2 separate regions of the Homo sapiens genome follow, and region 1 is linked to region 2. Evidence: fine-mapped expression QTL. A gene starts in region 2. The other region holds a variant in brackets. All regions are shown on one strand. Distances are between the middles of the regions.

Region 1 (11,162 bases), 330 kb after region 2:
GGCTTGTCTCTACAGGCAAAATGATCTCTGAAATCTAGCTGCAGGACTCAACGACTGGCGAATTTGTGCATGACACAATCATAATCAATGGGAAGGATTTGTTCCATTGCTCAGATAAAACCAGTTGCATTATTTCATCGCCCTACTGCATACATGGGGGAGAATGGTGCTTTTTCTGCAAAACTACTCTGCCATTTTTGGGCACAGTTTTGTTGTAAGATTGGTGTGCAATAGAATGAAGAGTAAAGAAAGGGATAAATGAACCATAATTTGTAGGCATGAGTCTGTCATTCCATTCTCCCACTAATATTATAGCTTTGGGTGTATTTGAATTACTTTTATATATGCATCTGTGTTGCTAGGCTCTTTAAAATGAGCTACCTAGAATCTTCCACAATGTTTGCAGTTAGTTTGGCACACAGTAGGTACAAAATAAATAAATTAGGCGCATGAGCAACGACTGATTTTGGTTTTTCTAATTGGGGCTTGTTTTTCTAAATGGAGATCTTAGGGCTCCGCCCATGGGTGAAGCATATCACTGCCTTTCCTTCTACATTCCAGACATGTGCCCAGAGGCCTTCCAATGAGGAGGGTAGAGTCTAAAATGAGCTCACTGGCATTAAAATCCCCTACAGCTTCTGGACATGAAACTTGGACATTTTTTACATTCCCTAGAGATACTGGCCTACATTAAAATTTCAGTCCCTTCCCGTTCCTCCTCCCTGTCACTCCAACTAAAAGAATTATCTAAACATGTCCCTCACACATTTATTACAAAATAAACTTGCCTCCTAGAGAGAGGGTAGCTTTAGGGGCTCCTGTAGCCAAGCTAATATGCCCAAAGCTAATATTAAACCAGTAACCTCGGATCTCCAACAGAATACCTAGGGGCCACCACACCTGAGACAGCTTGTTCTCTCAGCCAAGACACACACCCGGCTCTAGGTATAAAGTGAATTTCCCATGTGAAATTTTTCCTGATGCCCTGACTCCTTTGCAACCTGACCTTAAAGGAATAAGTTCAATGCTTAATTATGGATGTATTATCAGGTGTAAACAAGGAATGTAGATGATAGCTTGGCTAAGGTTAGATAAACGACTTCCCTTTTCCCTATCATTTTCTTTTTTTAAAACCTGATTGATCCAAAGATATTTATTTTTGACTGCTGTTGGGAACAGTATGCACTTACAGGCACATATGCACCTCTGGTCTATTTACACATAATTATTGTTTGAGGAATAAATGTTAAGAGAGTTTCATTGTAAGAAATCGAAACTTGAACATTTATGCCAGTAAGCAGTTAAAAAAAAAAAAACCCTGAATACAAGAGAAATTCTTTAATGAAGGAAGTCATTAGTTTTGATTTGAATTTAAATGTTGTAGCAACTTTCCTTTTGGTAACTAATAAATAATAACTTAGTTGTACGTGATGATGACCATTTTCTTTCTAAGAAAATGTTCTTTGGTAACTGGTACTAATAGAGGACAGTCTGAAAAGAAGAAATCAATCATTGGTTTCTTGAATCTAAATTTTATAGCATTGGAAAATGTTCTAAAGGAAGGATTCTTGGATGGCATGAAGTACCTGGCTCCTAGGACAGCGTATCAGAATAAGAAAGGATGGAACAGGGTTTCAGTGATCCAAGCTTCTCACTCCAGCCCTTCCTCCCTATAAGAATATCAGCTGAGGCCAGGTGTGGTGGCTCACACCTGTAATCCCAGCACTTTGGGAGGCCAAGTCGGGTGGATCCCTTGAGGTCAGGAGTTCGAGACCAGCCTGGCCAACATGGAGAAACTCTGTCTCTGCTAAAAGTACAAAAACTAGCCAGGTGTCATGGCAGGCACCTGTAATCCCAGCTACTTGAGAGGCTGTGACAGGAGAATCGCTTGAACCCAGGAGGCGGAGGTTGCGGTGAGCTGAGATCCTGTCACTGAGCTCCAGCCTGGGTGACAGAGGGAGACTCCATCTCAAAAAAAAAGAAAAAAAAGAAAAGAAAAGAAAAAAGAATATCAGCAGAGTGATCTAGTCTTACTAACACATGTAATACATGTTTGTCTTCAGGTGCGGAGGGCTGGAGATGCAGAGAACCCCAGTCAAGGTTAAATTCAGTGAACAAAAGCAATGGAGAGAGCAAAGTAGGGGATGAGAAAGCCTCAGCAGGCATTTCCCCCAGTTTCCTTGGTCAAACACTACTCACCATTTCCTTTTATAACTCTGAGCTAATTACCTTGGACTTGTTCACAGTCCCTCTATTTATGCAATCCAGAATAACGTTTGATTTATTTTATTGCTCCAGAACCTGGTGCCAAAGACATTAACATTTTATCCGCCTGTGCACTTGGATTTATCCTCTCAAATCTATTGCCCATGACCAAGGAAGATCTGTCTTGCCTCTAGATTTCTTGTCCCTAGCCTCATTACCTTATTTGTCACTACACTGAGTTGGATAATCAAATTACCTGCCTCTCTTCAGCAAGCACTTGGAGTTTTATTGTCCTTACTGGCCACCTTTGATCCTCCTTCTGCCCCCTCAGTGCTCGCTCTTCAACCCCTGCAGGGCTTCCCTTAATCTTTGGAGGAGGGCAAAAGTGCTTGACTTAGCCGCTTCACCTCTTTCCCTGTGGGCCAAATGTCACCCCCTCTCCGGATCTCAGGATCAGTAACACAACTAGTTCCCCAGGCTCATCTACAAGTGGGTCCCCCAAGCATTTGCAGAAGTTATCCCACATAATGTGATGATACAGGTTCCTAGACAATCTCCCTCTATGTAACCCACACCACTCATATCTGACTCTTTAAACATTACACAAAACACAAGAAAACCAAGCACTCTGGAAGGATTGTTCTTTACAGTGCGCACAAGCATTATGTCATTCATTTCCTCCCTACAGGTGGAATTTGATTGTCCCAATCCAAAATGACCTCCGGAGCCTCTATTTCCTGCACCCCTCAGCCCTCACAGTACCTCAGTATGTGGCTGAGTCATGCAACCATTCATGATACAGTATGTCCACTCTACCAAAATGCAAACTTGCCAAGGCAGGGCCATAGAAAATATGTTATTCATCCATGTACCTCCTAAAATATAGCATAATGCCTAGAATTAGCAGGCTTTCAATAAATATCTGTGAAAGGAAACTGAGAAGCAAAAGAGGGAGAGAAATTAAGAAGATGACTCTAGTGTTGTAAGAGCAGCAAAAAATAGCACCAACCACTTATCATGAAACTGTTTTTCCCCCAAAAGTTTGGTTTTTCAAATTCTTATTTCTTAAGTTCCTGTTATTCATTATTCACATGTGTTTGTATACGTTCTGCCTGGAATTGAATTCTCTAATGCTTTATTTCCCAAGTCTTAATTTCTGAATCTCTTGTGGTGATGTAATCGTGTTATTCGTTATTTCTTTAGTTTCTTTGGTTTCTTTTAGGAAATGCATGTCTGCTTCTAACATTTGTCCCCCATCTTCTGAGAATTCCAAGGCAAAAAAATATTTTTTTAAATAATTAAATAATTACATTATTTTTTTTAGCTACATCTACCTCTTTTTAAATTACCCTCCAATTCTTCATCATCCAACTATCGCCTTCAATGACCCCTATGTTCCTTACACACTTGAAATTTTCCCCATTATTTATCTTAACCTTCAGTGCAATCTCTTTTTCATTCACTACCTTTGCCTTCCTTATCTTTTTTTACACTCCCTGGACTTTGTTCAGTAATCTTCCCTGGCTGCCTCTGTACTCGATGCTTAATGCCTCACATATGTCTCTTTCTTACCTTTGATTACTTTTTTTTCACTTGTTCATCCACATTGTGGAGTCTCTTATTGCTAGGAGTGCATGCAAGATGACCCCTGGGTTTATGTTAATTTATAGTTGAATACTTTTCATTTCCAACTATGTTCATCATTTCTTCCCTCTCTTCAGCCCACACGGTTTCACCTGGCCCCTCTGATGCTCTTCAGAAATGCATAGTATCTTTTTGATATGGGATAGTGACAGTGAATTCTGCTTCTAGCCTCTGCTGCATTATCTGCTCCCAAAAAAGTAATGTAAGGTAGAGAATAAGGTACTGCTCTCTTCCCAGAAAATACATCTATAAGGAAATGATCGTTGTGAATAGTAGGAAGAACATTCTCTTACACTGTGTCATTGTCTAACCAAATACCATCCAGGCAGCAAACATTTACAAGGCAAAGCACAAAGAGAAAAAAGATTCCTTTTTGCTGAGCTTCTTCCAGCCCCTCAGTGAAGTGGAGTGCATAAGAATGCTTTCAGAGGAATGGACCCTGGACCCAGAATCAGGGTAATGGAGCCCAGTCCTGGCTTGCCTACTGATCAGCTGTGAAATCTCAGAAACGTCCTTTCCCTTGTCTTCAGTCTGCTCTGTCAGTCTCTGTTTGACTCTTCGGTAAAAATGAGGGATTGGATTCTATCATTAAGGGTCCTACCTGTGATTCCAAGGGTGACCATTGTGACAGTTCTGTCTCCACTGCTGTTGTAATTAAGAAATAAGCAAATTTTGTCTTCATTATTCACACCTTCTCTTTTGTTCTTTTCATCCTGTTTTAGGCACCTCTTTCTACCCATCCACTTTATTCCTGCCCAGTGCTGTCACGTTTTGTAATCTGCTAGCCCCTTGTCCCTCCCGAGCCTTGTGCTAGGCTGGGGGAAGTTTCCTAAAATTATTCGCCTGGTGCTGCCACAGGCTGAGATTGGCAGTGCAGTGTAGTGGGGAAGGCATCCAGCCTGGCTGCACATATGATTCTGTGACCTGCTTTGTGTTACATGGCCTCTCTGTGCCCATGTTCCTCATCTGCAAATGGGGACAACATTGGTACCCAAGTCAGAAACTTTCTGGGAGGATTAATTAATACTCATAAAGCATTACAGTAATGCCTGGCAGGAAGTCACCACCATATAAATGCTAGCCAAAGAAAAAAACGAAGTATTTGTATCTTAGAAGTCTCCAAATCTTAAAATAGAGACTGAATTCTGACAAATCAATTTCAAGAAACAGCAAACTGAAAGATTTAGAGGCTTAGGGAGGACTTCTGAGTTTCCTTAACATCACAATACACAGGGGGTCATCCTCTAAAATCACAAATATTCATCCTGGGGGGAGCACAGATCTTAGATTTAACCCAGCTACTGTATATTATTTTATATCAAAACTTCCGTTTCCATAGAAATATTCAGTATATATATATTTTTATTTTGAGTGTAAAGAATGTTTCACAGCAGGTCCCTTTAAAGTGAGGGTTCTCCACCAGAAAAATGTGTATGATCTCTGAGACCTTTTAGTTTCTGTTATAGATACAACTTGTAACCATGAGATGACCTAATTTTGAATTTCTCTCTGCCAGTAGAATCTGAAATGTATCTTCTCCATCAGGTAAACTTGGTCAACTTACAAAATCTAGCGTGTTTTAGAATATCCTTTTCCACAAGTGAGGGGATAATGGATGAAGGAGAGGCCTTCAAATAATAAGATGTT[C/T]ATGACTCACAGGTATCTTATGTTGGATGTCCGAACACAAGGTAATGAATACATTAACTGTGGAATGTTTGGTGTTACTTACCTACATTTAAGGGACAGATAGAAATATACCATAGGCTGGGAATGGTGGCTCATGCCTGTAATCCCAGTACATTGGGAGGCCGAAACAGGTGGCTCACTTGAGGCCAGGAGTTCGAGACCAGCCTGGCCAATGTGGCAAAACCCTGTCTCTACTAAAAATACAAAAATTAACTGAGCAAAGTGGCACATGCCTGTAATCCCAGCTACTCGAGAGGCTGAGGCACGAAAATCACTTGAGCCTGGGAGGGGGAGGCTGCAGTGAGCCGAGATCATGCAACTGCATTCCAGCCTGGGTGACAGAATGAGACTTTTTCTCAAAATAAAGAAAAAGAAAAAATACATAAAACATACCATGATCTTGAAAGGCAAATCACACTACTCTCCAAGACTGGGACACTTGGGCAGTTAGTTAGAGATTTTGCCCCTCAAGAAGCGATCTTTTGTGAGATTTGCCTATAGTTTACTCATTGGGTGAAAAACATCTCTTGAAATGAAGTCGACGTGAACATCAATGTTACAATGAAAGTACCTCACCCGCTTTGTCTTTCCAATACCTAAATATTTATGTTTGGAAACTTATAGGCTGATCATTTGGAGCAGAGCTGTTATTTAAGAAATGATAATGAGAAAAATCAGACAGGCAGCAAAAACTGGGGCCACATTTTTAAGGCTCACTGTTATTAGAAATATGACTTTTTCAGATATTAAAAATAAATCTTTAATTCCCCTCATGCCATTCTGAATCATTTTTACAAACATCTGGATAAAGGAATCACATCAAATCCATGGTGTTTTGAGACATTCCTGGAGCATGGATGTTCTTGAGATTATGCTTTTGGATTACTTGAATAGAAACAATAAATACTTTCAGTACTTAAAGCTGTAATGCTTTAGGTTGGATTTGGATTTTTGTTTCATTTTAGTGAAAGGTGGAGATTCAAAGTCGCCTCCTTAACCAGAAGGATATATTGGATATGAATATAGTTTATTGCTTTCTGACCTACATTTCCCCTTTTTTTATCATTTGAAAAGTTACTTGACAAGTTGAACGCCTGCAGCTCAGCATTTCCAAACATCTGCCTTGAAGGAAGCACTTTGCTTCAGATTTTCACATAATGATCAAAAGTGGGTTTAACTTTCTCAGGTTAAATGGGAACAAGGGGGATGGTCTGACAGGGATAGAAATATATTTGAGAGCAACATAAAAGAGAAAAAAAATACTTGGAGCTGTCAGAAGCTTAACCCTGGAGTCAGCTTGGGCACATGAAGACAGCCTTCAGCTGAGAGATAAGTAATCTGCCATCTGGCGTTGGTTCTAGCACAGTTTGCCCATCTGTACAATGGGGGCTGTAGGGTCTATACACTTTGAAAGAATGTAAAATCAGTGCCAGTGAAGACATGACCTCAAGTCCTGACCCTGCTATAAACTAGCTGTGTGACAATGGGAGGTATGCTATCCTTTGAACTTTACTTCCCTGGAAAAGAGATGTTCTAAGGCCCTATCACCTTTACCATTCTCTGATTCAAAATTGAAGCAGGAAAATGTGAAAATGCAGATTAGAGTTTAATACCAACCTAAGGAAACTAGAAATTAAAATAAAGAAACCCACATTTTAAATTCAGTCCATTCTGCTATGAGCCAGAACAAGCGTTACAACCATAAGCAAAATCAGACAGGGTCCCTGTCCTTTCAGAGTTTACAATCTAGGGGAGAGATAGATATGATCAATTAATTACACAAACAAATATGAAATTATGTCAAGATAAATTACAAATGATAGGTTAAAGAGCCTAAGAAAGAACATAAAGAAAAATTTAAATGTCAACAAATGACTTTATAACATACTCTGAAATTAAGCTGATACAAACTTGAAAGAAACTACAGAAAATTAAGAATGCTAGTAATTTTTTTTTTTTGAGACAGGATCTTTCTCTGTCACCCCAGGGTGGAGTGCAGTGGCATGATCACGGCTCACTGCAGCCTCTACCTCCCAAGAGCAAGTGATCTTCTCACCTCAGCCTCTTGAGTAGCTGGGACTACAGATGCGTGCCACCACATCTGGCTAACTTTTTGTACTTTCAATAGAGATGGGGTCTTGCCATGTTGCCCAGGCTGGTCTCAAACTCATGGCTCAAGCTATCTGCCCGTCTCGACCTCCCAAAGTGGTGGGATTGCAGGCATAAGCCACTGCACCCAGACTAGAATGCTAGTGTTCTTAAATTATCTTCTATTCCAGAATTCCAGAATGTGTCACATGGACTGTATTCTATGATATATTGTAAAGTTAGCCAGCATCTTCCAGGGGGTCTCCCTGGTTCAATCTCACTTCTGTTTATTCATTCAGCCAATACATTTTTACTGTCAAAGTGCTATGTACCAGACATCTTGCTAGGCGCTAGGGATACAGTATGAATAAGACAGTTCTTGCTGAGTTAGCCTTTGCTACATGACAAACCTTCTCAAAACTTCATGGCTCAGAAAATGATGATTTATTAAATTTTCATGACTCTGAGGGTTGGCTGGCTGGTCTCCCTGCTGATTTTGCCTGGCCCAGTCATGTGCTTGCATTCAGGTGCAGGGTGGGTTGGGCTGCAGGGTCTGGGATGGCTGCACTCGCACATCTGGTACAGACAGGCTCCTGGCTGGGGTACCTCAGTTCTCCTCCATGTGGCCTCACATGCAGGCAAAGGCCAGACCAGCTTCTTCACAGGGTGGTCTCAGGACAGCATTCCGAAAGCAGGGAACCAGAAGCCGCAAAGCCTAAGGCCTAGCCTTGGAATTCATGTAACATCATTTTTGTTGCATTTTGCTTGTCAAAACAAATCCCATGAGCATCCCAGATTCAAGAGGTGAGAAAGCAGACTCCACCTCTAAGGTGTATTTATATGAATTTGTGGCCATGTTTTGCAGTCTGCCCGATATCACAGTTAACAATGTGGATGCTGGGACCACAGACCACCTGGGTTCACATCCTGCTCTGTCACTCACTCATTAGCTAAGAAACAACAGGCAAGTTCCTTTACTTCCGTGTGCCTCAGTTACTTTATCTGTAAAATGGGGACACTAATGGTCACCACCTCACAGGACCACTGAAAGGATTAAAGTTAACATATGTAAAGCCCTTAACACAGTGCCAGGCACGTAGAATGCACTGAATAGAGGCTAGCTATTAGTATTATTGTTAATATCATTATTATTATTAATCCAGTCTATCGAAAAGACATTCATCAATAAATTACACAAAAAGATATTAATTAGTATTTGATACTTATAAATTAACATTATAAAATTACTATTAATTAGTATATGTGCTAATTTACACAAATAGCACAAATTAAAAGCAATTAATTAGCATAAGTATGCTGAAGGCAAAATAGAAAGCAATAAGAACAAATAGTACAGGGTGAGTCAGGAAGCATCTCTGAGAAGTGACTGTGAACTGAGGCCTGAATGGTACCCTCATGAATCCAAATGAAGGCAGGAGCTCAGGCCACGTGGGAAGGAGCTCGGCACACAAGGAGCTCAAAACTCAGTCTCTTCCTTCTTTCCTGCTCTCAGCACTTGCTTACAAGAGTTGAACCTTACTAATTCCATGTTTTTCCAACCTTTTCTTGGAAGTATAATGAAAGCTATTAGGGAAGCAATAGAAAGGAACAGAAAACTCCTTGCCTTTGGAGTCAGGCTGGGTAGGCCCTCGTTCTGCCTCTTCAGTTTACCAGCTGTCCAAATGTGAATAAGTGTCTCAACCTCTCTGAATCTCAAGTGCCTCATCTATAAATTAAAATCAAAGTGCCTTTCTTTTAGGGTTGTTGTGAACAGGGCATGATATTCAAAATATTGAGCCATCAGAATAGACCCATGGGCATCGTGCACCAGTGTTGACCACAGAGTCTTGGGCCTGGTTGTGAGGATTAAATGATGAAATATATTTGAAGTGCCTTCAAGGCTGCCTAAAACAGTGGGGGCCGATACACAGTTGTCTTTGTTATCATTGTTTATGTTTGTATTCACCGTGGCTCTCCAGCTTCTCCATGGGGCTTTCTAGGGACCACATCTCCTCTCTCCTCCCAATCTCCCCCACCAGGTGCCCAGCCCAGGCTCCACCTGCCAGTTGCTGACTGCCTGTCTGGCGTTTTTATTGGGGAGATGTAGCCTGCCCCACCCCTGTGGAGATGGTCGAAGATGAATCACATGGCCAGCCTTGCAATAAGAGGTAGGTTTGAAGTTGAAAGGTCTTAAGTAAATAGGGCTCCCCATTCTGGGGGTCTTCTCTCTGCATCCCACTTTTCTCCCTACACTCTGCCTCACACTTCCAAACAACACTCCCTAGGAGGGCGATTCAGCTTCTGGGCTTCAGCCAGCCTCTCCCTTTCTCCCCACCTCCACCCCACCCCCAACACGTTTTCTCTCTCTCTCCCCCTCTCCCCTCTTTTTTTTTTTTTTTTTTAACATGCAAGTTGCCATGAAAAATTTGTTAATGAAATATTTGCTCAGAAGTCTGCTCTGGGCTAGGCTGATAACCTATCTGTGTTTGAGTTTGGCTTCCCATATTCTAAATACTCATCTTCTGTCTGTTTAGCTTATTGATTGGTTTGGCAGGAAAAGAAGCCTTGTCATCAGTGACCAAGGTCAAACTAAACAAAAATGGAATGGGGTGGGGAGAGGGAGATGAGCTGATGGGCTCAGGAGGCAAGGGAGACTTGTCCAAGTTTCCTTGAAGGGACAGATCCCAATTCCAAACAGTTCCCCACTCCCCAGGTTTCCGTTCATCTGTAGCTGGTAAAAGAAAAACTCTTGGCAGAGGGGGCCCGGATGCGGACATAGATGCAAATGCTGAAAGGTGAGAGGCTAGCAGATGGTGTAAACTTAGAGATTTCTTTCCCTGAGTGTGTCAGGAAAAATGAGGGAGGGAGCTTGTGCCTCCATGAGCAATGTTAAAAGGCTTTGCAGGGGATCACTGCTGATACTTTTGCTGAAGGCTAATATCTCACTAAGGCTGACTATTTAGTTAAAGGCATGGTAGTTACTAAATTAGAAATAAAGCCACTGGACAGGTGATATTTGTTGCACAAATTCAGGGCCCCAATCATCATTGATAACACATAAGTGTGTATGAGTCTATTGAGGTGTGAATGCATTACTTAATGCTTTTGCTTCTAACTCAGCATCTTAAACCTGTTTCTAAAGGGTGACAATTAATGGAGGTGACAGTCAGTAAGCACCCTCTGGTTGGGCAACATAGGGAGCGCCTGGATGTATAGAAAGGGACCAAACCTGGGCTGGGCTCCTGCATCCACTGCAATCAGCCGTATGACAAGGCCAAACTCACTTCTTCTCTTTGAGCCTCAGTTTCCTCATGTGTAAAACAGGGGTCATAATACCTACTCTCAGTTGCTGTGAGGAAGAATGAGATAGCACCGATAAAGTGTCCATGAATGCCGAGAGGTCTAGAAGATATTGCTCGGGATCAAATGTCTGTTACAAGGACCATCACAAGGCAGATCCTCCCATCCTCACCGCCACCATGAACAGCAAGAGTTCTCTATGCTTGTACAAGCTTCATTTGCTCCCTCACTGAACTCAA
Region 2 (11,162 bases):
AAAGCACAGTTACCTTCTCATGTACTTGAGATTTTCTTTCTCCATCAAATTCATATCTAGGACATTTGGCACATGTCTGGGACAATGACAGGCTCATTCTACTTTATGAGATTATTTAACATATGACTTGAAAGAGTTTATGTACATACCTATTCTTTCTGGGCAAGGAGAAAGCATGCTTAAAAAGATAAGCTTTAACAACAGTAACACTTTCAAACTGACTTTGGAATTCTTGGCAGTTACACACCACTCATTGCTATCCAAAGCATACACCACACACACACAAACACACACACACACACACACACACACACACACACACACACACGACAGTTCTCTCTCTCTCTCTCTCTCTCTGCCAAGCACAGACCTGGGAGATAGGCATAAACTGGTAGGAAGCAAAGGAAAAGTCAGTCTCCCTCCACCTGCTGCCTAAAGTGGGGGTGCTTTGGGCTGACTGGCAGACAGAAGCCTGGGACACAGCCTCAGCAGTAGACTGCCAATATCCTTAAGAAAAATAAACAAACACATACCAACTTGCCCCCACCCCCCACCCCAAGAACTCACATGGCAGGGCTCAAAAGAACAACAGCCCAATTCCCATTAGCCCAGACAATCCTATTAACCAGGACAACCATAAATTCATAAACCTCTCCAACCCTCGAGCAAGCATTGTGGTCTAGAGCTGTACAGACACACACAGACACAGAGGAAATTTGCACCTGTCTTTCTTGACACAACACACCTGTCAGGCCCTGCCCATGCGCACTCTGCTAATAGATTTCTGCCTACCTAGGTTAGGAAAGGAAATGAGTTCTTTTTTTTTTCTTTTCTTTCTTTTTTTTTTTTTTTTTAAATAAGGGAGGGCATGAGTGGAAAAGAGAACAGGAGAAGGGAGTCTTCTAGCCTTGACTTTGCGAGGAGGCCACCCTGTGCTTCCTCTGTTTTTATAAGCTCAAGGAGACAGCACAGATCTTCTCGGAAAAATAAAAACAAGCAGGTGAGTTTCCAGCCTTCCCCCAGGCAGAGTAGCCTTCTGGGTTGCCAAGAACAGCAGTTTCACACTCCAACCTGCCTCCTTGAGCTATTTAAGACTAAGCACCACCCCTCCTTCTAGTTCTGTTCTCTGTCTGCCTGGAGGGCTCTCAATTTCCCAAGAAGCTGGGAAGGGGCCAGAGACCTGGGAGTCTGTGGAAAGCTACTTACTCCTCCTTTACCATCCCCACGCTCCATCACTCCACCAACCTTCAGCTTCAGCAGGGGGAGTAACGGGCTGGCACACCAGAAGAATCAACAACTTGCTAAACTGGACTTTGGGTGATGTCTCCCCCCGCCCACTGCGTCCCCCTCCTGATCTGCTCAGGCAAGATAGCAGCTCTTCCCTCCCTCTTCCCGCCCTCCTCACTAGTCTTCCCAGTAACAATTACTCTCACCTCTCCTGTCCTCCCTCCCCAGTCCTCCTAACTGGGGCAAAACGGTAGGTACCACCCAGACGAGACCAGACCGAAGCTGCCCAACACCATAGTCTGCCAGCGATGGCTGGGAGATTCATCGCCTCCCATTTCTGCTGCCCAAGAACCCCCTACTCTTACCCGGCCCGCGATCCTCCGGTCCTCCTCGTGCTGGTGTCCCAATCCCACCGCCACGCGACCCCCCGAGCCTCCCGGTGCCGCCTTACCCTACTCAACTTGACCCAGCCCTGGGTCCAGGAGCTCGGAAGAGGGGCGCCGCGCGCGTTTCCCGGGACCCATCACCGCTCCCCTCCAAGCCGGATTTCCACAATTCGGCTTCGACAGCGTTTTGAGACGAAAGTAACAGAGCGCCCCCCCACCTCCCTCTCTCCTCCTCCCAGTTCCCGGTCCTCTGCTGGGGTTAAAAAAGGAGAAGTGAAAGGTATGCAAATGACAAGCAAATTGGAAGAGCCGGGAAGAAAGGCAGCTATAATAAACAAGACAAAGAGAAAGGACAAGGGGACCGGCCCCGGAGTTTTAGCCTGGGGAGATCGGAAGGATGGGGTTTGGCGGAAAGCGGGGATCTCCACGAACAAAAAAGCGACCCGGTCCCTCTCGCGGTCCTCTCTCCTGAGAAGAGAGAGCAGGAGAAAGAAGGAAAGGGAGCAAACGCCTCCTCACACCCCAGAAACAGTACACAAAAGGTGACAAGATCAGCGACAAGTCCAGCAACATCAGCCTCCCCCCCATCGCCACCGCCACCCCCAGCCACCAGCAGGAAAGAGAAAGAAATAAAAGCCAAGAGGATCACTTACTCTTAGGAACTGGGAGGAGCGGAGCGCTGAGTTCCACGGAGGCTCCCGCTTAGAAACTGTTTAGAGGCTATTTTATTATGATTCATTTGAATAACACCATTTTCTCCTGGGGGGAATAATGTTTACACGGGTCTGAGTAATGGGAGGCTCTTTTCTTCCTTTCTCATTCAAGAACAAGACAGTGCAAGTGATTCTGGAAAAGGGGAGGGACTCACGAGGGGAAGAAGAAGATACTTACGCGGTGCAGGGAGCAGTGGGACCGAGCCTCTCTCTCTCTCTCTCTCTCTCTCTCTCTATCTCTCTCTCTCTCTTTTTTTTCCCCCGGCAGAGAGAGGAAAACACGCGAGTGCACACACGGTGATATCTTGCGGGTGATGAATATGATAATTGGACAAGGGACGGTGAGTCTGTGCGACAGCGAGCGAGCGAGCGGGGCGAGTGGGAGAGGGAGAGGGGAGAGAGAGGCGGGAGGGGAGGGGAGACGAGAGAAGAGGAGCAGGGGAGAGGCGAGGAGAGGGAAGAAGAGGAGAAGAAAAGAAGAGGAGCTAAGGGAAGAGGAGAGAGCAGGAGAGGAGGAGAGAGAAGAGCGGGAGGAGAGGAGAGAGCAGCAGAGGAGGAGAGAGGAGAAGGGTAAAGAAGAGAAGAGGAGCGAAGCGGAGAGGGAGCAGGCGGACCCGGCGAGAGCTCTTTTGCGCCGCTCTGCTTTCCCCGGCTGCAATGGTGTATTATTTCAGAGCGCTCCCTCAGCTGAGGGCTCCGCTCCACAACAAGATTTACTTTAAGACACAGCTGAAGGAAACAGGAAGACTGCACGTCACAGTCTATCTGACGTACCCGGCCCCAGCACCCAATCGCGAGGCGCCTTCGGATTCAAGGGGGGATAGCAAGGCAAGAGAACTTGGGAGGAAAAAAAAATATAAAAGGGGTGGGGGTGAGGGGCTGGGAAGAGAGGAGGGGAGAGGGGCCCTGCGCTCCCCCTCCCCGGCCTCCATCCCCGGCCCCCACCCCCACCCCCACCCTGCCACAGCTTCGGGACGACTGGATCGCCGCGCCTGGGCCGGAGCGAGCCATCTGCGGGCACTATGCAAAGCGGGAGACGGCGCGAGCGGCGCCCGGCTCACACTAGCTCTTCCAGGACGCAGGTCTTTTTTTTTTTTTTTCTTTTTCTTTTTTCATTTCCCAGATACAGCTGATCGAGTTCGCCGAGTGGCCGAGCGAGTGAGCGCTCCTCCGACTTGGGTGGAGGAAGGCACGGAAAAGTATACGGGAGAAAAAGTGGGGGTTTTAGGGGTGGGGGTGGCATAGGAGGAGGGAGGGGGGGATCTGCAAATCATTCCACTTTTTAAACGATCATAGGTAGTGTCAAGGATACGTGTCACCCTTGGTTCCTTTTAAAGGGGAGGTGGACAATAAAATACAGGTAGGTTTGGTATTAAAATAATAGGTGCCAGAGGTTTCACATCGGGTCCGCTGCATCTGTTATTAGACGAAGATCAACATTGGCTGAGTCCCAGTTTATCTCCAGTCCAAATTATCAGGAAGAGGAATATTTACCCTTGGTTACCTCTGACATTAGTTGGATTGTAGGTAAAGCAGCCTTTAAAAATATATATGTTGCAAACATCTGGCGATTACCCTTCACTAATTCACTCGCCCCAGAAAGACCAAAGATAGCTGTTCAATACAGGATTTACACAGTTTTGACGCCTGGGCAACAAACTTTAAAGTTTATTAGGCAAGAAATTTCAAACGCATAAATCGCAGGCTCTAAAATAAAGCCCTAGAAAATTTACTTTGGTTTGACATTTCTTGCTTGAAAAATAACCAGCAAAATTTCTTTAGATAATGTGGCTCTTAAAGATCTCCTTGGGCTTTGCAAGTTACAAATGCAAGCGAGCCTCAGCCGCAGCTAGAACGTCCCTTTCACCGGGCACAGTAAACGGCTTTTAATAAAGCAGCCGCGTTTATGACCTAAAGATCCTATAAAAGCTGGGACTTGCAAGAGCTGCGAAGCAGAAACATTCATACATAGTCTATTAGACACTCATTTTTGTAAGTAGGAGGAGGACAAGTAGTCTTCGTGTGTCCCTCAAATTTAATCAGATCAAAGGTTGAATCATGCTGTGTCGTGACAACAGGGTATTTATGAGGTGTGTTACAAGTACACTGGCCAAACACTACCAATGTCTTCTGCGACACACACACACACACACTCCTTCCTAGGGAATTTACAATTTCAGCCTCAAATTCACCAAACCGTAAAGAGGATATTAAGCCCTCCCTTTGAATAAGAATAGCGATGTTAGTATGTCCGAGTCTATCCCGGCAGGAAACTTTTGGCACGAATTTCAAACAGTGAAAAGGAGAAAAAAAATTAGGTCGGTCAGGTTAGGTGTCGGCGATAAGAAAAGAGATTGCGGGAGCATCCCCAGCCTTCTTCTTTCCCCTTTTGCCGCCCCCACACACTCCCCCCACGCGTCTATCACGGAAGCAACACAGAGGAGCGCACACGCACCACTCACACCTCCAACTATTGACTGTTGTATCAGGTGTTCTAACCGGGATGTGACAGTTGAGGCTGGGAGCAGAAATAATCAACATGCCCATTAGATACAGGACGGAATAATGCTTCTATTGGTTGGGTCCCTTCGAGGTAAGCGGGTGTATTGAGCGGGGAAACTTGGGATCTGAGAATGGATCAAAGCTACTTTCTTTCTTATTTTTCGTCCTACTAGTTTTCTTTAAGAATCTTGGTTTGTACATATAAGTTAGCGCCAGCCCACAAATAAACTGGTAGGAGTAAGGGCTATATACCTTTCCACACCTTAAAACCATCTGCTCAGTTTGACATTTAAAAGGGCGGAGAGCAGAGAAGGAGGAGGGGGGAGTAGGGGGAAGAAAGGAGTCAGGGACAGAGAAAAAGATTCAAACGCGAAAAAAATGGCTTGCACTTTAGCCCACAAGTTTGTGTCAATTGCACATAGCGCTTGAATGCACGTTTTGCACACACCACGCCCGGGAACTGGCGGCGGGAAAAGTTCCCTGAGAACCCCAGTAAGTCCTGTGTCACGCCGTGGGCAAAAGCAGGCCTGAGTCGAAGTCGGGGTAACCCGCTTGCCGAACAAGGAAGCTCTCCCACCCCCAGCCTCGGCGGCAGAGGCTCCCGGCTCGCGACGCTCTGCCGCGGCGGTTCGCAGCCCGCATTAGGGCGCAGGAGCGGCGACTTGAAATAGGAGCGCGCGCCACGCTAGGCGAGCGAGATCGGTTCGCAGCCCAGCTCCGTGAGCTGCCTCGGCGCAGCCCTGTCCCGTGTCCTGTCCTCTACTGTCGGGGAGGCGTACAGGCCAGGCTCCTGGCAACCTCTCTTGCTAGAGCTGCGGCATTCTCCTGGGTCTCGGGCTGCCCTGGACAAGACTTGAGGCCCGAGCCCCCTATCTCGGGCGACTCCCGCTTTGTTTTCTGATAGGGGAGAAGCCTGGAGACAAGGAGTCGCCTAGATATTGGCTCCATCTCTGAAACCAGCCGCCAAGCCTAGGGTTAAGACAACTCCTCCCTCCGCCCCACTTCCAACACAACCCCAGTAACTTAGAAGTTAACGCAAGTTCTGACCGGTCTTGTAACACACTCTATCCGTGCAGGTTGCATTTACTTATTTATCTGAAGGGTGATCTGTGTGTTCTTAGACAAACTCGCAGTTATCACCCATGCATCTGGTTCTGGGTTAAATACACTTCGCCTTGACATTTGCTCGGTGTATGCTCACGCCTCCTGTTCTTTCTTAAAGCTGTTAGGTGGGGGCAGGAGGGAAGACAGTGTGTATAAGTAATTTAAAACCTTACAAACAACTGTTATCAGATCCTAAACAAACCAATTCTGAGAATTACAACCAGATTCAGTTGAGAGGCAAAAGTGGACGTGGATTTTGGAAAAGGGTGCCTAAGGACTTCCAGGTCAGCCACCCACCGCTACCACCACCACCACCGCCACCACTACCACCATCACTATCAGCACCCTGAAGAAGGGAAGAGAGGAAAACCAACCCCAGGGTGCAGGCCTGCCTGCTGCAAGCTTTCTAGAGGCAAAACTGACTGACGGCCTCTCACTCTCATCTCCTGTGCTCAGTGTGACGCCAAGCCCAACCTGGATTTGTTCTGAATGGGGGGGAAGTGAAATGCCACAAGATCAGTAGCAAGTAGCAGCTGCAGCGTTTTCTCTCCTGGGAACCCCACTGCTTAGAAGCCTCCTGAGTGATGTTTGTTTAACCAACAGCTTTCAAAGTAAACAGAAGCCAATCACTCCAAAGAAGTTGAAATATAACCCTTACAAGAATTTGGATCCAGGGGTGCTGGCAGAAAGAAAGTAATTTTTAAAATGATAAAGAACCCACTCCCAAATAAGAGTCTGCCACATTGCTTTAAGGAGCGCAGAATTGTCATGAAAATATAATTTCATCGAAAGGGCTAATTACAATAAGTTGACCTCGAAGAAAATCACTCTTCGCCCACAAAGACACACCCGCGGGGATGAGGAGGTTGTCAGTGATTGAAGGGACACACTACTACTTGATTTTATGGAAGTGGGCGAAAACAATCAAAGGGAAGTACATTCCCTGCCCTGGAGTAGTGAAGTGTAGGCTGGGAGCTCTTCGCCGCCAACCCTGGCTTTGCCTCAGGCACCGAACTTTCCAATACCAAGATATTAACAGATGGTGGTGAGCACATGGAGGGCTGCTACTTACATAATCTAGCCACTCCGCCCGGCTGCCCAGAGCCCGGCGAGGAACCGGCCAGGCCGCGCGCGCGCCTTCCGAGGGGTGCTCCCTGACATAACTTGCCTTTCTCCAACCCCACCCATCGTTTTGAGGGTTAGCATTTGGAGAGGCCGTGATTTAAAAAAACCAAACAAAAACAAAAACACCCAAAACATTGATTTGGCTGTGCTTTGTCTTCTTCAGTCCATAGTAGCGAAGAAGCTGGAAACCCAAAGGCTGAGAGAAACGGAGGGGATGCCTTCGGCGAGAAAGGGGTGCTCTCCCTACGTATCTGGGGGTTCCCGCGAGTGGAATTTACACAATTTACAACACTCTTGCCCACCATCTTTGGTTCAAATCCACATATCTTTTGCTGTCGCTTAAGTACAAAGGCAGTCTCGGGCCGCAACTCAAGGGGAGTGAGATGGGGTGAGGGTGTGAGTGTGAAGGGGACACCTTTGCACGCGGGGGCGCAGTGGGCAAAGTTACGCAAAGCCTCTGGGCACCGCTACACTTCCAAGCTGTGGCAGGGTTTTAAGCGCTCGATCCCGCTCGCAGGGAGTCCCTTTCGGATGTGTGGCCGCCTGCTGCCTTCACGCCCTCAGCCGCCTCCCAAGAGGCCCTGTCCCTCCTGGTGTGCCTGTGTACCTCCTCCAGTGTGCCAGGGCACGTGTGCTTCCCGAGCCTCCTCCCTGACTGCGACTCGGGACCGCCGAATCCTGCGAGGAATACGCCTGCGTGTGTTGGAAAAGTTTCGGGTTGGGCAGGAAGGCTGGGAATCTCCTCTCCAGGCACTCGGCAGGAGCGGGGCTTCCTCGCCCGCGGCTTCCTCCCAGTGCCCTCCTCCCTCCCCGGCCCGCCCTTCCTAGCCTCGGCCCCGCGCTAGGTGTCGCGGCCTCTCCGGCCAGAGAGAGCGAGCGCCAGATGCTGCGGCTGCCGCGGCGCCGCGCTCCGCAGAGGGCGCGCCCCTCCTGCCTGCGCGGCCAAGTGGGGGTCCAGGCCGCCCTGCTGGTCCCTCCTCGCTCTGGCCCCGCGGCACTTGCCTCTTCCCGGGCCATCGCAGGGGCTGCAGCCTCGCTCAGCTAGCCTGGGCTCAGTACACGCCCTGGACGCAGAGGGCAACCACCTGCTCCCGGCGCGCCGCAGAGCCGGGGAACGTCGTGGTGGCCGGGGGATTTCGGCCGCCGCCAGGCCTGCGCTGCCCCCGCGGCCTCTCCTCCCCCGCCGCCCGCCTGTTGCTGTGGGGACAGCCGGTGGACGCGCTCGACCTGGGAGGGGGGACTCCCTCCCGGGACCGCGGGAGGGGCGTGCACGTTTGAAGGGATGGAAATCTCCCTTTCTGCCCACCCCCTTTCTTTTGTCAATTACTCTAAGGATGTTTGGCCGTTACTCCCAGCTTCCCTCTCTTTGGTCTTTCACGTCAAGGATGTGAATTCGGGGGTGCTCCATTTTCAGGGGCTTTGGTGATAGGACTGAAGTTTTCCATATTGTCCATCTTACCAGAAGCTTTTATTCAGGGTGAGGAGTGGGCTAGAAATAAGTAGGTGCCTGCCTGACGCAGCGAAAAGAGAAGGACGCTCCCAGTTTGGATGCATTTGGAGAGAGTAACTGGAAAGTTGCATTTTGTTTAAATTAGAGCAAGATGAAGTTGAAAGCCAGATTTCTATATTTTTTCTGGTAATATTTCTTTTATGAAGTATCTAAGTGTCTGTTTGTCATCATTTTGAGATCAAAAGGAAAATCCATATGCTGTATAGTTTTTCGAAATTGCTATTTAAATATGTTTTAAATGTTTTGTCCAACGTGGAGTAGGCTGCTTGGAGGCAAGGCTGGTGACAGGAATAGCGGGATGGTTTGATGTGGAGTGGTGCTTCCGAAGACCTGACGAATCATCGGAATCACCGAAGGGGTGTTTTGTTGTTGTTGTTGTTGTTGTTGTTGTTGTTTTAAATAAAGATTTCTGGGCCCACCCCAGTGAGGTAATCAGAAGAAGGACCTGGGAATCTGGGGGTCACCCTGTGTCTTTAATTACTGCTCAGCTGGTTTGTTACTGACTCTGTGACCTTCAGTGTGTTACTTAATCTGTTTGAGACTCAGTTCTTTTTATCTGTGAAGTGGGGATAATATCCAAATCATAGATTTATTGAGAGACTTCTACACGACTAAACTTGTTCAGCACATGACTAGTGCTCAATACTTGGAAGGTATGTTGCCCACAAATGAGTGCTGTGTACACTCGAGCTGACATGTATTCTTATAAGGACCTGTCCCTATCCCCAACGTTTTGGTGAAGCCAGCTGGACTGTCATGGGATATGTATGTGTATGCACATTTTAGCTCATGCATAGTTGTCACCTTTACATGCTTTCCCCTCCCCCGTCTTTTAGGCCATAAAATAAATCAGAATTGGCACATTTGGAAGCTAGGCCCTGTGCTTTTGGACCTAGAACTGTCCATCAGGCCTACTGGCAAAGGGGGGAATTTACCAATCTGAAGTCTACTTCCTCCTCCACCCCACCCCCACCTTTTTTTGGCCCGTTCACCCTCCCTGTTTTATAGATGGCAAGCATCTCCTAAAGAAACCGCTGGTCAGACCAATGAAACCACAGGACAAAGAGTTCTCTTCAAAAGGGAACAACAAGAAGGAGAGAAAAAAAAAAAAGACAACATTCCTAGGTAAAACAAAAGCAAATGTAGATCATATGTTATATGTTTTTACATGTTTGACTCAATAACCTCCCCCAAATCCATGTAAATTAAAATATAAACTTTCATAAAGTTATGTTCAAACCAATGAATAGAAGCATACCCCAAGGTGATTAGGGGACAGACAGCCAAGGACAGCTGTGAGAAGGGAAAGGAAGCTGGGCAGGAAGGTGCCATGCTCGGCTGTGACTGCAGAAGTGGGGGGAAGAAAGCCAAGGAAATGGAACGGGCTGAAGCAGCAGACAACAGCTCAAGAGGGCTGACAGTTTTTCAACTGCAGAGGCCTGTGAGCAGCTTATTAAACATCCCGAGAAAGGTGTTTTGCTGGTACCCTCAAAAGGCTTGAGATAAAGTAATCGTAGATTCCCGGGGGCGGGGGGAGTAAAGAAGGGATTGCCAGCGTGGGGTGTCGGTGGGCCCAGCCCCTAGTGAATGGACCCCAGGGGTCGGGGTGAAGGCACTGCACTCTCTGAATGAGGGAAAGAGGAAGCATCACCCCTAGATGCCTGTCCTCCTGGTGTCCGTGGTCTTTGGGCAAGCGTGGAAGGTTCCTGCTCTCTGGCTACTTTCTCTGTCCCTGTTTCCTAGGTGGAAAAAGTCCGTAACTTTAGGGGACAAAAACAAAGGGCGCCCCCCAAAAACTAGAGAGAAACATATTTGGGGTCAAACTGTACAAAAATGGATGGCAACTTCTGGCTTCTCCTCCCCAAGCACCCTCCTAGTGGAAAGAGCTCTATTCCCTACACTTGTAGGTGGACAGGGGGCAAAGGCCGAGAGGCAAAGGGTGTTGGTGGGTGAGTTGGGGGAGAACGGGATGGGGAGGGCTGGGGGAAGTGTGTCTGCAGAGTGTGAATGGGCGGGACAGGGGTAGTGTGTAGCTGTGTGTGTGTGGGAGGGGCAAGGGAGTGGAGTTGGGGGAGCGAGTGTGGGTGGGCTCTGTCGGGGGAACTTCGAACTGGGGGCGCGGGGGAGGTGGGTGGAGGGGAGTTGGGTGGGCGAAGAGCGCCAGTTTCCCCGGAGGAGGCCCGGGAAACAGGCGGGGAGGGGGCGTGTGGAAGCGTCGTTTGAAGGGCGGAGGGGCAGGCCGGAGAAAAGGCCAGGCGGGAGGCTAAATCTGGCAGGGGCTCCAGCCCGGCGAAGGCCGACGCGTCTCGGCTTCCTCTCGCCTAGACTTTTGAAGCGGCTGGCTCGCTAATCCCGGGTTGGCTGAAAGACTTGGACCCGCAGCCTCGGGGGCCCTGCGTCCCGGACTATCTCCCGGGGGGCGCTATGGGTAGGGAAGCGGGGCTGCCTTGACTCTCAGTGCGGGTCCCCGGCGCCCTCTCAGCCTACTGGGGGTGCGGGCTGCGCCTCGGTGTGTGCCCCCCTTCAGCGCCTCGACAGCGCCCCTCACGCTAGCTTCCTACTTCCTCCCAGCTCCATCTTCCTCCGTCCCCTCCC

Direction of the effects. Positions count from the first base shown, and alleles are read on the strand shown. Sizes are in standard deviations (SD) of each study's normalised expression.
With allele C in place of T in region 1, the expression in pancreas of the gene that starts at base 4,835 in region 2 is lower (moderate effect, 0.48 SD a copy in GTEx).

Evidence for each region.
Region 1: its variant is fine-mapped to the expression of PROX1-AS1 in pancreas (GTEx, PIP 0.99).

The regions. Positions count from the first base shown.
Region 1 is chr1:213,649,792-213,660,953 of GRCh38, reverse strand. It overlaps a transcript of RPS6KC1 not described here. Among named protein-coding and RNA genes, the nearest start is that of LINC00538, 270 kb to the left of the region's middle. The variant C/T (reference allele first, on the strand shown) is at 5,497.
Region 2 is chr1:213,979,826-213,990,987 of GRCh38, reverse strand. It overlaps PROX1-AS1 (PROX1 antisense RNA 1), which reads left to right and starts at 4,835. Exons shown (of 6, transcript NR_037850.2): 1 at 4,835-4,919. It overlaps PROX1 (prospero homeobox 1), which reads right to left and starts at 3,015. Exons shown (of 5, transcript NM_001270616.2): 1 at 2,505-3,015. RefSeq lists enhancers at 1,631-2,134, 2,135-2,638, 6,163-6,848, 6,849-7,535.